Homo sapiens: one gene and its partners. The protein of the gene in region 2 purifies or fractionates together with the protein of the main gene of each other region. This does not show direct contact. Each region holds a gene or a part of one and is shown on either strand. Other genes may lie near its edges.

The links.
Region 1: the proteins of SEPTIN14 (region 2) and LIMK1 purify together in Homo sapiens (affinity purification with mass spectrometry; one large-scale study listed by BioGRID and IntAct). This does not show direct contact.
Region 3: the proteins of SEPTIN14 (region 2) and DCTN6 purify together in Homo sapiens (affinity purification with mass spectrometry; one large-scale study listed by BioGRID and IntAct). This does not show direct contact.

What each region holds. Positions count from the first base shown.
Region 1 is NC_000007.14:74,114,703-74,118,353, reverse strand, and holds part of LIMK1 (LIM domain kinase 1), read right to left. Parts: intron 2,553-3,651; coding exon 2,396-2,552; intron 1-2,395. UniProt on the Homo sapiens protein: Serine/threonine-protein kinase that plays an essential role in the regulation of actin filament dynamics. Acts downstream of several Rho family GTPase signal transduction pathways.
Region 2 is NC_000007.14:55,860,560-55,864,310, forward strand, and holds the start of SEPTIN14 (septin-14), read right to left. Parts: upstream 2,194-3,751; 5' UTR 2,129-2,193; intron 1,453-2,128; 5' UTR 1,438-1,452; coding exon 1,384-1,437; intron 1-1,383. UniProt on the Homo sapiens protein: Filament-forming cytoskeletal GTPase. Involved in the migration of cortical neurons and the formation of neuron leading processes during embryonic development.
Region 3 is NC_000008.11:30,162,728-30,166,378, reverse strand, and holds part of DCTN6 (dynactin subunit 6), read right to left. Parts: intron 2,269-3,651; coding exon 2,204-2,268; intron 1-2,203. UniProt on the Homo sapiens protein: Part of the dynactin complex that activates the molecular motor dynein for ultra-processive transport along microtubules.

The DNA of each region.
Region 1 (3,651 bases), about 18 Mb from region 2:
TCAGGCTGGAGTACAGTGGTGCGATCTCGGCTCACTGCAAGCTCCGCCTCCTGGGTTCACATCATTCTCCTGCCTCAGCCTCCCGGGTAGCTGGGACTACAGACGCGTGCAACCACGCCCAGCTAATTTTTTTGTATTTTTAGTAGAGATGGGGTTTCATCATGTTGACCAGGATGGTCTCAATCTCTTGACCTCGTGATCCGCCCACCTCAGCCTCCCAAAGTGCTGGGATTACAGGAAGGTTTTTTTTTTTTTCTTTTTGAGACACAGTCTTCCTCTGTTGCCCAGGCTGGAGTGCAGTGGTGCAATCTTGGCCCAATGTAACCTCTGCTCCTGGGTTCAAGTGATTCTCCTGCCTCAGCCTCCCTAGTAGCTGTGCCACCACACCCGGGTAATTTTTGTATTTTCAGTAGAGACAGCGTTTCACCATGTTGGCCAGGCTGGTCTCGAACTCCTGGCCTCAAGCAATCCGCCTGCTTCAGCCTCCCAAAGTGCTGGAATTACAGGTGTGAGCCACTGTGCCTGGCCTATTTTTTGTTTTCTTGAGACAGGGTCTCACTCCGTTGCCCAGGCTAGAAGGCAGTGGTATGATCATAGCTCACTGCAGCCTTGATCTCCTTGGCTCAAGTAAATCTCCCGCTTTGGCTTCCTGAGTAGCTGGGACCACAGGCATTAGGCACCACGCCACATGCCAGGCTAATTTAACTAGGTTAACTATGATGAGGTGATGGCTGGGGTCTGCCTGCCCTGAACCTGTGTTCATGTGTCACCTGCTTGTAGAAGGACTTTATAACCTATAATCTGGGCATATATAGGACCATTGACAGCAAAGAAATGGACTGAGGGAAGCAGACCCTGTGGGAGGCAGAACTATGATCCCCAAAGATGACTGCGTCCTGATCCCTGGGACTTGTATACGTCCCACCTTCCATCGGACTCTGCAGATGGGATTAAGTTGAGGGTCTTGAGATGGAGGGCTGCTTTTGGATTATCCAGGTGGGCCCAATGTCACCGTAAGGGTCCCTATCAGAAGGATGGAGGGCCATGGTGGCTCATGCCTGGAATCCCAGCACTTTGAAAGGTCAAGGCAGGAGGATCGCCTGAAGCCAGGAGTTTGAGACCAGCCTGGGCAACATAGTGATACCCCCGTCTCTATTAAAAATTTAAAAAATTGGCCAGGCGCGGTGGCTCACGCCTGTAATCCCAGCACTTTGGGAGGCCGAGACGGGCGGATCACGAGGTCAGGAGATCGACACCATCTTGGCTAACACGGTGAAACCCCGTTTCTACTAAAAATACAAAAAATTAGCCAGGCGTGTTGGCGGGCGCCTGTAGTCCCAGCTACTCGGGAGGCTGAGGCAGGAGAATGGCGTGAACCCAGGAGGCGGAGCTTGCAGTGAGCTGAGATCACGCCACTGCACTCTAGCCTGGGAGACACAGCGAGACTCTGTCTCAAAAAAAAATAAAAAATAAAAAATAAAAAAATTAGCTGGGTGTGGTGTTGCATGCCTGTGGTCCCAGCTATTCAGGAGGCTGGGGTGGGATGACAGTTTGAGCCCAGAAGGTTGAGGCTGCAGTGAGCTATGGTGGCACCACTGCACTCCAGCCTGAGTAACAGAGCGAGACCCTCTTTAAAAAAGAAAAAAAAAAGGAGGAAGGTTAGAGCCAGGGAAAGAGATGCGGGGATGGATGCAGAGATCAGAGAAGAGAAGATGCTTTGCAGCCAGCCCTGAAGACAGAGGAGGGGGCAGCAACAGGAGGAATGAGGAAGCCTCCACGAGCCAGAAAAGGTCAGGAAACAGGTGCCCCGGAGCCTGCAGAAGGAGCTCACCCTACCGGCGTCTTGATTTCAGCCCGGTGAGGCTGACGCTGGACTTCAGACTCCAGAACTGTATGATCATTTATTTAAGCCACTAAGTGTCTTCTATTTATTTATTTTTTGAGATGGAGTTTCGCTCGTCACCCAGGCTGGAGTGCAATGGCGCGATCTCGGCTCACTGCAACCTCTGCCTCCCAGGTTCAAGCGATTCTCCTGCCTCAGCTTCCCTAGTAGCTGGGATTACAGTACTACAGTACTGGGATTACACCCACCACCATGCCCAGCTAATTTTTGTATTTTTAGTAAAGAATGGGGGTTTCACCATGTTGGCTAGGCTGGTCTCCAACTACTGACCTCAGGTGATCCACTCACCTCAGCCTCCCAAAGTGCTGGGATTACAGGCGTGAGCCACCGTGCCTGGCTGCCACTAAGTGTGTTATAGGAGCAACAGGACCCACAGGGTAACTGAAGAGCCAAGGAGGCTGGGAGGGGCCAGGGGCTTGGGAGGTTACAGCTCTCCTGGGCTCCCCCATGGCTTCCCGTGAGGGCCATGATGGGCAGGGCTGAACCACTCACCGTTGATCATCTCAGGTGCCATCCAGTAGGGGTTGCCCACCACGGTGTAGCGCTTCTTGCGGTCTGGCTTCTTGAGGCTCCGCAGGCCCTCAGGCTGAGTCTTCTCGTCCACCATGAGACGCGCCAGCCCGAAGTCAGCCACCACCACATTCTTGTTCTGGGAAGGTGAAGCCGGGTCATGCTGGGACCCGATCCTAGTACTGCCCGCTTGGCCTGCCCCTCCCCAGGACCCCAAGCCAACCTGTAGACAGCCCAGAGAACATACCTCTGATACGCTGTATTGGCACAGGGTGGGGACCCCTTCCTTCCCCAAACCCATCCGCTCTTTGCAAATGGAGCTGCGGGAAGCACCTGAAGATAGCAGTGTGGCTTCCTCCCTCCCACCACACGCTGCACCCTCTGCCCCCTCCCCACCTGCTCCCCAGACCGTCGTGGCGGACCCACTGCTCCCTCCTGCAAGCGCTCCCTCCCACCTGCGGGGGCACTGATGCTGCTTTGTTTCGGAGAGAAGACAGGAATTCTTTTGTTTTTTTTTTCAGACGGAGTCTTGCTCTGTCACCCAGGCTGGAGCGCAGTGGCGCGATCTCGGCTCACTGCAACCTCCGCCTCCCAGGTTCAAGCGATTCTCCTGCCTCACCCTCCCGAGTAGCTGGGATTACAGGCGCCTGCCACCATGCCTGGCTAATTTTTGTATTTTTAGTAAAGACGGGTTTCACCATACTTGGCTAGGCAGGTTTCGAACTCCTGATCTCAGGTGATCCACCCACTGTGGCCTACCAAAGTGCTGGGATTACAGGTGTGAGCCACTGTGCCCATCAAGACAGGAATTTTGATTATAGACCCAGGTCCTGTGCTTGGCATGCCACCAGATTTACTATTTATTTAGGTTGATTGACTGATTGAGATAGGGTCTTGCTATGTTGCCCAGACTGGTCTTCAACTTCTGGCCTCAAGTGGTCCACCTGCCTCAGCCTTTCAAAGTGCTGGGATTACAGGAGTAAGCCACCATACCTGGCCCAATTTTATCTTTTTTTTTTTTTTTTTGAGTTGGAGTCTTGCTCTATTGCCCAGGTTGAAGTGCAGTGGCACGATCTCAGCTCACTGCAAGCTCTGCCTCCCAGGTTCACGCCATTCTCCTGCCTCAGCCTCCCAAGTAGCTGGGACTACAGGCGCCTGCCACCATGCCCAGCTAATTTTTTGTATTTTTAGTAGAGACGGGGTTTCACCGTGTTAGCCAGGATGGTCTCGATCTCCTG
Region 2 (3,751 bases):
AATAAATATTCCAGGTAATAGATACATGAAGCACCCTGACTTGATTATTATGTATTCTATGCATATAATAAAATATCACATGTACCCCATCAATATGTATTAATATTACATATCATTTAAATTTTTTAAAAAACAGAGGGGTCCTTGGAGAGGTAATTAGGTCATATGGCTCCACCCACATGAATAGGACTAGTGCTTTTATAACAGAAGCTTGAGGGACACTGTTTGCTTCTCCTGCCATGTGAGGACACAGCTAGAAGCCATTTTTGAAGCAGAGAGTAAGCCCCCACCTGACACCAAACCTGCTGGTGCTTTGATCTTGGACTTCCCATCCTCTAGAACTGTGAACAATGCATTTCTATTGTATATAAATTACCAAGTCTGAGGTATTTTGTTATAGCTGCCCAAACAGACTAAGACACTTGCTAAAGATTTGTTGCTAGCATTTGCATATCAGCATTTGCATAATGTTTGACTAATTGGCTTTTGGGATCCCTTCTAATCCTAAAATTTTATGTTTTAGAGTCATGTGAACAAAGGAGTATTAACCATGATTTGTTAAACAAGAAAGCCCAAAGATAAAATGGAATGAGCATAGGCCAATGTTTCAGTCCCTGAGAAATTCCTCTGATGGTTATTCATGAAAAGCAATGACAGGCCAGGCGCAGTGGCTCATGCCTATAATCCCAATACTTTGGGAGACTGAGGCGGGTAGATCACCTGAGGTCAGGAGTTCGAGACCAGCCTGGCCCACATGGTGAAACCCTGTTTCTACTAAAAAAAAATCCAAAAGTTAGCCAGGCATGAAGGCAGGTGCCTGTAATCCCAGCTACTTGGGAGGCTGAGGCAGGAGAATCACTTGAACCCAGGAGGCAGAGGTTGCAGTGAGCTGAGATCACGCCACTGCACTCCAGCCTGAGCAACAGAGCCAGACTCAGTCTCAAAAAAAAAAAAAAAACTTGCTCTAACCTCACACTCAGTAAAGCAATCAGCAAGCAGCCATCCAACCATTTGCTAAAATAACTTCATTAAAAAATTATTTATTGTCAGTGCATACATTCTGCAAATATATCCATCAAAACAGCACTGTTCTTCTCATTTATTGGGCGATTCAGAAGTTTTACTTTGAATTTCTTTGGTGTTAAGTAGAAATAGTCTGTTGCACTGCTAACAAGGTCATCGGACTCAAAAAACATGTAACAATTATCTAAATCACCATTGATACTTAAAACTCCAATTAGTATAAAAGCTAATTCATGCCCAAACATAACAAACAAGACTTTATCTTCTATGCCTACATCAGTTTTCCAAGTCAATATTTTTAGGCTATATAATCTTATTGAAGTACAAAATGCAGAGTTATATTTGAAAGATATACTTAACTGTATCTCCATCAGCAGGTATTTGTGTGGGCATAGCCATTGTTCTTTCTGCCATGCTACACTAAAAGAGCTGGAAATTTAAAAAAATAAACATTTTTAAAAATTTCTTACAAAGGCTATATTCTTACTATATAATTTAGATAATTAGGGGGCATAATATGGGTATTTTTGCAAGCTTTAGTTTTTAGTTCACACTATTCATCTGTTTTAAACTGTGGCTGTCTTGCTAGATGGGCTTCTACATGATGAATAATATGTAATATTCAACTTATAATGTAGAGTAATACATTTAACCATAAGCACACAAAAAGCATCTTAAAGTTAAACTCCCTTTGGAAATCAAGAGGATAAGAGCATTCTTCTTCTTTAAATGACTCCATGGTCGTAAGAAAGGAAAGTAGAAAATTTTGCTTTAAAAAATGGTTAAAAAAAAAACAAAACAAGACACTCACAAGCACTTAACTTTCCAGAGTAGCATACCAGAGGAGGCTTAGGCATTTGAATTTACCCATTGAAAGAGAATTGTGAAAGCAGACCTTAAAAAACCTAAACAAGTTCTTTAGACACTGAACTAAAATAATGATAATTCTCATTTATGAAGCATCTATTATACAGCTAGCATTGTGCTAAGGGTTTATGTGCTTTATTTACCTCTGTTAGTCCTCATAGTAGATCTGAGATGTATGTATTTTCATTGCCATATGCCAGGTGAAAAAATTCAGACTCAGAAAGATTAAATAACTTACTTTCCCAGGGATTCAGCTGTGCAGCAGACACAGGTCCGAACTGATTCCAAGCTGGTGTCCTTTCTACTGTCCCCAGTTGTGGACCAAATAAATATTCACTGTGTTTGTAACAGTTGGGAACAGGGAGGAGAGGTACAAGAGAGCGTGCTGTGCTCATCTCCAAGCAGAACTGCCTGAGAAGGCCATGCTACCCTACTTTTGAACACAGCACAGAGATACTAAGAATATGAGACATGTTTCAAAAGGAAATATTATATATTTATAAAGCAAGTATTTGAAATATTTGAGAAGCAAACAGAATCAAAGAATGGTTCTGTGCCATAATCTCTTCACTTGCTCTATCCTGAGGATTATTGCACTTTAGTATACAAACGTATATCATTTTCCCTAAAATTAAGCAATGTTTTCTGATATAGATAGAGTTCTGTTTTGTGGTGTGGTTTAATCTAGACCAGTATGTATGAAGGTTTTTAAAATTTATTTATTTATCAGAAACTTAATGGTGGACATTGCAGTAATTTTGAGCCTTTTTTTTTTTTTGCTCTACCTCCTGGGTTCACACCATTCTCCTGCCTCAGCCTCCCTAGTAGCTGGGACTACAGGCACCCGCCACCACGCCCAGCTAATTTTTTGTATTTTTAGTAAAGATGAGGTTTCACTGTGTTAGCCAGGATAGTCTCAATCTCCTGACCTTGTGATCCACCTGCCTCAGCCTCCCAAAGTGCTGGGATTACAGGTGTGAGCCACCGCACCTGGCCAGTAATTTCTAGCCTTTAATGGAAATCAGCAACAAACATTGTTGATTTAAGTCAACAATGTTTGGCCAGGCACAGTGGCTAACACCTATAATCCCAGCACTTTGGGAGGCCGAGGCAGGCGGATTACTTGAGGCCAAGAGTTTCAGACCAGACTGGCCAACATGGCAAAATCCCATCTCTACTAAAAATACAAAACTTAGCTGGGCATAGCGGTGCAGGCCTGTAATCCCAGCAACTCAGGAGGCTGAGGCACGAGAATTGCTTGAACCCAGAAGGTGGAGGTTGCAGTGAGCCAAGATCCCGCCACTGCATTCCAGCCTGGGAGACAGAACAAGACTCTGACTCAAAAAATAAATAACAATGTTTATTTAAATCAACAATAAATATTGTTTTTGAAATACTGTAGTAATTTGAAGTAAACTACTACAAAATTCAAGAGTCTCTATCTCTGTATAATGACTGAATTTTTGGCAAATCTGCCAAAAATTATTTGAGAACTAGAGATGCAACTTATCTTGTATTTAAAAGCCTAATTAAGTGTCTTAAACAAAGAGGGGTTTATTTCTTTCACATAAGTCTAGAGCAGAAGTTTTTCAAAGTACGATCACTGGGCCCTGAGGATTCCTGAGATTCTTTTGCGGGGGGCCTATGGGTTCAATTTTTTTCTAATAATACTAGGGTTTTTTGTTTTTTGTTTTTGTTTTGAGATAGGTTCTCACTCTGTCACCAAGGCTGGAGCGCAATGGCGCAGTCGCAACTCACTGTAGCCTCAACCTCCCAAACTCAAGCGATCCTCCACACCTCAGCCTCCCAAATAGCTGGGATTACAGGCACCTGCCATCATGCCCTGCTAATTTTTGTACTT
Region 3 (3,651 bases), on a different chromosome or scaffold from region 2:
CCCAGGAGTTTAAGACTAGCTTGGCAAAATAGCGAGACCCTGTCTCAAAAAAAAAAAAAGAAAGAAAAAAAAAACCAAAACGGGGTTGTTGTAACATTGGGGGATTTAAAAAAAAAAGAAAAGAAAAAATGTAAAATGGGGAAGAAGTAGAAATGCCAGGGAAAATCTACATAATTAATTACATCACTTCAGTCTTACTTTCCTTCTAACTGAAGAATGCATTGCAAACTACTATAAGGTATTATTCCTAGAATATCATGATGATAGCCACAATTATAATGCAGTAAAATGATGAGTAAAAAGAACACAGAGGAGCATTTTGATAAATATGTGGTCCCAGTCTGCAGTAGAGATTGTAAAAAATTAAAAAACATAACTTTCCTCATTTTGCTTCATAAACACTTCGCAAGTGGTTTAGGTAATACAAAAGACAAAGAGTTACCACGGCACTGAAAAGAAATAATTAAATCAACCAACCTGGCAAATTCTTTTTTCTTTTTTCTTTTTTTTTTTTTCTGAGAAGGAGTTTCGCTCTTGTTGCCCAGGCTGGAGTGCAACGGCGCGATCTCGGCTCACCGCAACCTCTGCCTCCCAGGTTCAAGCAATTGTCCTGCCTCAGCCTCCCGAGTAGCTGGGATTACAGGCATGCACCACCATGCCCAGCTAATTTTGTATTTTTAGTAGTGACGGGGTTTCTCCATGTTGAGGCTGGTCTTGAACTCCTGACCTCATGTGATCCGCCCGCCTCAGCCTCACAAAGTGCTGGGATTACAGGCGTGAGCCACCGTGCCCGTCCTAACCTGGCAAATTCTTAACAATGTTCCATAATACTGGCACAATCTCCACTGGTTTTATAAGACAAGATGCCTAAATTGTTTGGAGGCTTAGATTTTTTTTTGGAAAAAAAAAATGACGTTACAGGGTTTTTTTTTTTTTCATTAAAGAAACTGTTCATTTAAGGAAATAAAGTGTATTTCCTCTCTGAAAGTGTAATAGTTCACTGAACACTTTAGTCTGGTAGCATACAGGTGACATGCGGCTGCTGGTAAGAATGAGCTCACACCAATAAAACTACAAGGGCACCATATCCAGGTAAACCCCAGTTAAAAGAACAGAGTAAAATGTTTGAGGAACTTAGTCAAGTTCACGTAAGTAAAATGTTGGACTTGAACTCTGGCAAGGCTACACTGAGAAGATCTGACAGCGTTAACAGCAAATATTTATTGACAGCTTACTACTCACAATTTTCATGTTTTCTTTCAAGAAACCTAGGAGGTAGATACTACTATTTTGCATGTTATGAAAATTGCTCATTGCCATCCAATATCTCTTCTCCTCTTTTTCCTTGTAATAGAACCCTGATCTCATTAGCGGCTGCAATGCAACCAGCTAAGACTACAACTCCCAAACTCCCTTGCAGCTTGATGTGTCCATGAGATTGTCTTAGCCATGAGACACACAGAGGAGGGTCGTGTGGAACTTTCAGGAAGGCTGTTTAAAGGGAGCTGACTCACAGCTGGAACACATGCCCTTTTGCTTCCACGCCTCCCCTTTCTCATCCAAGATGATGCTTGGTGCTCTAGCCATCACTTCCTGGCCTGCAGGGCCGGAGCTCCATGCTGGACAATCAACCGATCAGCCCTCCATTACTCACCTTGAAACTTTTTATATGAGAGAATAAACCTCTGCAGGTGTAAGCCACCCCTACATGCAGCCGAACCTGATCCTGATACACACAATTATATAGATGGGAAAAACATCAAGGTTAGAGAGGTTAAGTAATATGTTCAAAGTAACCCAGCAAGAAAGGAGCAAGGAGCAGAGTAGCCCAGGTCTGTTGACTCCATGGCCCACGCTCTCCACGAAGCTCCACAAAGGCAGCACCTTTGTCTGCTGTGCTTACTGACGTGTCTCTAGCACTAGCACAGTGCCTGGCACATCGCAGGTACACAACAGATCTCTCTTAAATACATGAATGACTTTGTTATACAGCCTCATTAGTATTTCAGATAGGAGTTTAAACACAGCCTCCATCACACTACATTCTTTCAGAAATTTAAACACATAGGAGAAAATGCATTATTTTGTCAATAAAACTAGGACATCAGTGAAATAAACATGGAAGACGGTATCTAATTGTAAAGCACTAAAATAGATTAAATCACATCAATTCTTGAAAAACAGTAAATAAACTATTTCTTACCGATAGTTACATCTCCTCTGATTTCACTTTCTACACATACAACTGCTCCAGGAGCAATCTTCACACTGTAGCAAGAAAAAGGTAACATTTACCAGGGGTAAGATTAAACATACTGTTGGAGGAGCTACCGTGACATTGTAATGAAAACAAGGTTTAAAAAATGATGGAAAAAAAGGCCAGGCGCAGTGGCTCACGCCTGTAATCCTAGCACTTTGGGAGGCCGAGGTGGGGGGATCACCTGAGGTCAGGAGTTCGACACCAGCCTTACCAACATGAAGAAACCCCATCTCTACTAAAAATACAAAACTAGCCAGGCGTGGTGGCGAGCACCTGTAATCCCAGCTACTTGGGAGGCTGAGGCAGGAGAATCACTTGAACTCGGGAGACAGAGTTTGCAGTGAGCCGAGATCGCGCCATTGCACTCAAGCATGGGCAACAAGAGTGAAACTCTGTCTCAGGAAAAAAAAAAAAAAAAAGATGGAAAAATGGAAAGTCAATGGTAAGAGGGTAAGGTTTTAATACATTATAAATTTTTCAATTGGTATATTGTCCATCATCCCAAATCACATGTGCTAAAACACTTGAGAAGAGTTTTGAATCTTTTCTTTTAATAGCAGCACGTTTCTAAACAACAAAAAGCTGAAAACAACCTAGATATTCATCAGTGGAAGATTAGTTAATAAATTATGGCACATTATGGACTATTACATGGCCATCAAAAAGAATGAATAATCTCTTGTCAAGATTTTGGAATGGCTGAGCACAGTGGCTCACACCTGTAATCCCAGCACTCTGGGAGGCCAAGGAAGGAGAACTGCTTAAGCCCAGGAATTCAAGACCAGCCTGGGCAACATAGTGAGACCTCATCTTTTTTTTTTGAGACAGAGTTTCACTCTTGTTGCCCAGGCTGGAGTGCAATGGCACCATCTCGGCTCACTGCAACCTCTGCCTCCCAGGTTCAAGCAACTCTCCTGCCTCAGCCTCCCTAGTAGCTGGGATTACAGGCATGTGCCACCACACCTGGCTAATTTTGTATTTTTAGTAGAGACGGGGTTTTTTCAGGTTGGTGAGGCTGGTCTCGAACTCCCGACCTCAGGTGATCCACCCACCTCAGCCTCCCAAAGTGCTGAGATTACAGGCATAAGCCACCGTGCCCGGCGACCTCATCTCTTAAAAAAAAAAATATGGAATGATCTCCAAGCTATATTGTTAAAAGTAAAAAAGAGTGAAGTGAGAAAATGGACAGTATGTAATATGCCATTATTTTTGTAAAGGTAGGAAGAAAAAATATACATTCAAACTATTTAACAACCAGCAAGGTAATACTAACTTAGAAATTTAAAATTTACAAATGTTTCTGTTTACTCTCATATATATATATACATACACATATATGAGAAACTTTTTACCAAGTAATATAAATTGTAGTACAAATTCTTCAAAAGACT